2 separate regions of the Homo sapiens genome follow, and region 2 is linked to region 1. Evidence: fine-mapped expression QTL. Tissue or cell type: tibial artery. Region 1 holds a variant in brackets; the other region holds the start of a gene. All regions are shown on one strand. Distances are from middle to middle.

Evidence for each region. PIP is the estimated chance that this variant, and not a neighbour inherited with it, causes the effect.
Region 2: COCH starts here. The variant in region 1 is fine-mapped to the expression of COCH in tibial artery (GTEx, PIP above 0.99).

The regions. Positions count from the first base shown.
Region 1 is chr14:30,772,241-30,774,924 of GRCh38, reverse strand. No RefSeq gene overlaps it. Among named protein-coding and RNA genes, the nearest start is that of COCH, 100 kb to the left of the region's middle. The variant T/G (reference allele first, on the strand shown) is at 1,280.
Region 2 is chr14:30,873,559-30,876,242 of GRCh38, reverse strand. It overlaps COCH (cochlin), which reads right to left and starts at 1,684. Exons shown (of 12, transcript NM_004086.3): 1 at 1,652-1,684; 2 at 1,271-1,327; 3 at 1,140-1,187. The coding sequence starts at 1,304. COCH-AS1 (COCH antisense RNA 1) reads left to right here. Exons shown (of 5, transcript NR_038356.1): 5 at 1-64. RefSeq lists a silencer at 1,603-2,122.

The DNA.
Region 1 (2,684 bases):
TTTGTGTGGCATTAAGGTTACTGTCCTTGCCAAACCTATGGTTTGTCCTCATCCCTAGGTATGGCTTCTGTTCTTTCCATCTATAAAGGTGGGGTGGGTAAACTAGATGAACTCTAATGGAGTTTATAGCTTACCATTATCTTTGGCTGTTTTTCACTGTGAGTGTGTGCTACCATTCCATGAGTTTTAGGTTTATGTATGAAATATCATACATTTGTTTTTCAAAATTATGAATTCAATACAAGCTCAAAGCACCAAACTTGTGAACTTGTTTTTCCACTTTCCCCGTCTCTTTTTTTGTACTGAATTTCACTCTGTTGGAATGTTTCTAAAAGTAAATGTCCTTGCTTTTTGGTTAAGAACTGTGATTCCTGAATGGACCACCTGAATATAACAGGGTGGTATGTCTTAATTAGTGCACTTTCTTTTCCCTCCCCCCGTAACACTAAGCTGAAAGTCTTTACTTTCATAGTTTATCACTTAAATCTTATGGGTTTCAGGCTTTATTAGGACTGCCTCATCAATAAAGTAGTTCAGCCTGGCTTCATTTTAAATATCTTTCCTTTGCTCTTACCTAGCAGAAAAAGCCTTGGAATGAAAACCTGGAAATTTGGAATCCTTCCTCTATTAGTGTGTGATTGTTGTCCAGTTACCTTAAAAAAAATCATACAGCACAGGTGTGCTTGTAAGCCCTTGTCCCCACAATTTGATGATACCATTATTGGTTTGGCTGGATATTTGCTCTTAGTCATCAGTTGTTTCAGTGAGGTGAAGAGGAGGAGGGTGGGGAGGTATTTAGCGGAATAATGGTGTTTAAGATTTACCCAACACCTAAAATATCCAGAAAAAAATCAAGAAACCCAACCCAAACTTTCTCGTTTTCTTTCTAAGAAAACATTAATGTGAAATCGACACTGTGCTAGTTAGTAATTGCACGGTGTGTGTCTCTCTCTTCTATTACCACCATCTAAAAAACACTCACATGCCCTCTCCCAGCTAGGAACCCCCCAAGGTAACTGCTGCTGTGATTTTGTGTTGTGACTATGTGGTCTATGGACTTACACTACAGTAAAATGTGGCTCCAGTTTTGGTGGACTGATCACATCCCAGGATTTAAGTGACTTTGGATCTGTTACTTAATATTCAGGAGTGCTGACCGGGAACACTAGAGGGCCTGAGGAAGAAGTCAGATGTGACATCTGTGGTGGGTCCAAGTTTTATCCTACATTAAAAGAAGTTAGATCCTCCTACCACTGATTTATAGAAGTTGATGTTGGTC[T/G]GGAGCTTGATGCCATGCTGGCGCCATGCTGTCTGCTGGCCTTTCAAAGGGAATTCTGGCCGCCTTAATTTGGCTTCATATTTCTTGGATGACCCATGTGTTTTGGACCGAATACTGTCTGTGAAGCAGAGTTCAGTGGGACCATTTAGCTCTGCGTTACCGGGAAGTGTTGCTGGCCCAGTCCTTACATGATCTGGGTGCTATGTGACCATAACCAGACTTGGGCTTCAGTCCTTGTTAACAAGCTGATGCTTTGAATGGGCCTGGGTCAGTGGTTTGTCTTGAAGTCTGTATACAGTCAACAAAACAGGGCAGTTGCAGAGTGCCTTGACAATCTCCTCATCTAATGAGAAAGCTGCTTCCCCACTGTCTGGAAATATGCAGTCAAACTTGTACCCCCAAGGGATATGGCATAGAACTTATTAAATATAATCTATTACACCATAATATTGTTGGACAGATGAAGTTAGAGGAAGCACTCTACATTTCACACATGAAATCAGACAATGGTGGGGAAGATTTTTATGCTGGCAAATGTAGCATAGAGGACGTTCCTCAGCCTCTAGCACATTGTATGGCAATGAATTATACACTCAGAATATGTGTGAATCAGTGTGTGAATGCATGAACAAATTTAATTCGTAGCTCTCAGATTCTAATACTGCAAATTGTGTTGAAAACTTTCATAGTCTTGGCATTCCTTGCCATTTTCCTCTGCCTGTTATATAGCTAAGATCACCCCAACTATTTTGTAGTTTGAAGCTACAGCATGTTTCTCAACCACTGATATTGAGAAGCCAAAGTCCAGGAGAGCTTTTCCTGGGATTTTAGAGAGGAAAGGAGGATGACCTCCAGTCTGTGCTGAAGACTTAGATGGAAAGAGGGTTATGCCTCTCAACAGCACAGAAAACAGCAAATTATGTTTGAGAATTCAAGAGATGAGTATTCAGCAGTAGCTCACAAATGGAAGTCACCAGTTCAAAATGCAGTACCATATGTGAATCACTGCTAAATTGAACCCTATTGACATATCAAAGAATACATTGTTGTTTGTTTTCAGAAGGTTGTAGAGATTATCGTAGATTTTGAAGGGATACAGGAACAGTTTTCTCTAGGTGTGAAAGGGCACAGCCACTTAAAAGGTGTCAGAAAAACAATATGTGCAGAAGAGCAGTCCTCGGGGAAATCCCAGAGCCTCAGCAGCAATGTGGGAAGACATAAGGACCAAAACAAAAGTCACAAAACAAGACTCTTCCCTACCCTTTTGTATTTGTTTTGGTCCTTATTTCTTCCAGCACGGCATGTGGAAGGGACAAAGGAAGAGAACATTAATCTTGAACACTAGAGAAGAAAGGGAGAGAGTTGGATGATCTCAGAGCAGTAGAAAACAGCCTTTTAAACATAG
Region 2 (2,684 bases), 100 kb before region 1:
TGAATTTACTGTCGATACTAAATTGAGATTAATGTTATTAAATGCTATTTTTCAAACATGGGAAGTTGTAGTTATCCAAACCTTTTTAAAACATATATTAATTTTAAAAACCTTTTTTTTCCAAGGCAGAGGAATACTTTCTGGCCATACTGTCCAACTGAGTACCTTGCCTGTGACAAGCACCCTCCTCTGTGCCCTTTGTGGTGACAGGTACCTTACATTCCATGGAAGAGAAGGAAGGATGCAGGCGCAATGCCCATTTCTTAGCTCTGAAGCAGTCTAGAGAGCTGAGAGGTTAAAATCCTTACCCCTAAACAGCCTCATACCTATCATCAAACAGCCTTAATCCTTCCTCCCATTTTCCGCTGAGATGGGGGCGGCATCGGAATCCGGTGCCAAGACCGACCGCCTTTAGTTGCGAACACTGACTTTTGTTAAGTAGAGCGGGAGAAATACAGCCATGAGGGATACTTAACCCTCATTCCTACTTTCAAGGAAAACAAACGGTAGCTCTTAGGAAAGCGTTGCCTTTTACACTGGAAAATACACCAAACCACACACCCATACCCGGACCTCTACACGTGGTACAAACTTTTTAAACTCTCTAGCGTGTAGAGTGAGACCGCGAGTGCTTCTGATTATAGGGGTTACACCTAGAAACATAGCTAGCGAGTCAAACAAGGTGGGACAGCGACGTTCGCCTCCCTCTCTCTCGGCTACGGCAACCTGAAGTCGGGTCTGGGCGGCTTCTCCTCCACCCCCAAACGCAGCAGAGCCCAGGACTGGTGCGCTCCTCGGTGAGGCTCAAGGAGTCCTCCTTCCTCGACCTCCTGCTGCCGGCGCTCAGCGGGCCCGGGGTCTGGGGCTGTGGGTGGGCCTGGAGGAGGCCTTCTTCCTAGTGCTCTTGGAGAACGTCCCCCCACTGGACCCCAGGGGCCCCCTACCATGGGAGAAACAGGTGAGCAGGAGCAGATCGGCTGCAGGGGTTAACGCGGGCGCGCCACGCGGCGGCTCAACCTTCGCGCCTTCCTCCTCAGGCGGTAGGGCTGAAGCCCAAGGGGCTGGATCTGAGTCCCGCTTGTACCCGCTGGTGCTCAGCCCCTGCGACCGCCTGGACGCACCCCAGCTCCCCCACTCACCGGCTCCCTCGCTGCCCGCGGGCCCCGGCAGCAGCAGCAGACACACACCTGCGAAGAGAGAAGCGTGAGGGCTGGCTCCAGCCTCCACCCAGCGGAGCAAGGGGCCGGGGTCGTGAGGGGCGCGCACCCACCGAGGCCGAGAGCCGGGATCCAGGCTGCGGACATGGTGACTGATAGGCTGCTCACACCTGGGAGAGAGGGAGAATGCGGGCAAGGCCAGGGTGCGGGAGGCCCCGCGCGTCACCTCCTCAGAGCCCCGCACCCTTCGGATCCCCGGGCGCGGCGCAGAGGAGAGAGGACACAGACGACCCGCTGCTCCAGGCCAGCGCCCCTCTAGGTCTGGGAGGCGCCTCGGCGGCAAATCGAGCGAAGCCCAGGATCGGTGTGCAACCCCGCACCGCGGGGAGGCGGGGGCGCCAAAACGACGACAGACAGGCTGGGAGCGACAAAGAAACAGGGACAGAGGCGTCAGGGATCCCTCGCACCCGCGCCCGCCGCCCGGGGCTCCGCACCTGCTCGAGATCCACCCGGCTGCGCCCGAGTGCGGAAGGCAAGGCCCCCGCGGCCGCTATAAAGGCTGGGCCGTGCGCATGAGCACTGTGCGGGGGGCGCGGGAGGAAGCGCGGGAGCCGGTCCCCCGGGGCCCGGCGGCGACTTCCAGCTCCGCCTTCGCCCCCTGCCGGCCCCGGGGTGAGGCCGGCGCGGAGGCGCCTCCTCCAGCAGCGCAGGCTCGGCCACCTGGACGCGGCGCCAGTCCCTAGAGGGGCACGAAGGTCCCCGTGCCGGCGTCTCAACGAGTGTGGAGGGCCGGCGGCCCCGACGGCGGCAGCAGCGGCCTCGCCAGCCCTGCTCTGCCGGGACCAGGGCTGCTGAGGCAGCGGCGGCCGCTACCCGCCCCACCCAGCGAGGCCTGGAGCTTCTGAGAGCTGTCAGGTCCACGCGGCCTGAGAACCGAACTTCTCAACTTGGTGCTCTCGTGGAAAGAGTTCCTACTTCTGAAATAAAACCACCCTAGGTTTGGTAAACGCATGCCGCGTTTTTGTTAGAAACCCTGTCAACTGACTGCTAGCTCGTTGGACCTTAGGGATTCGGCCTTGCGCCTTCGTTTCTGCTGGAGTCCTACTTTCCCCAGTGGTTCAATTTGTGCTCCTGCCTAGAGCCACGCGTGTGAGACAGCCCTGACCCCAGCAGCCGGTACCTTTGCTTCTTTCTCACCTCAGGAAGAATTTATGCCTGATTGCCTTTCGAAATTCCCAGACTTGGTGTCTTGTGACTGCACAGAATCTCAGATTTGATAATGTGTTCTCCTTCTCCCCGCACCATCCTGCTAACGTTTTACAAATGGAAATGGAGAAGGAGCAGAATTCTTGAGGAGTGTTAGTGACAGGCGACCTGCATGGCAGCGGAAGAACCAGACCCAGGCCCAGACGCTAACCTTTCTGGTACAATATAAACTTTTTCAAATAGCCTTATTTAGTTACAATTTACATGCCATAAAATCCATCCGTTTTGAGTGTACAGTTCAATGATGTTTAGTAAATTTTC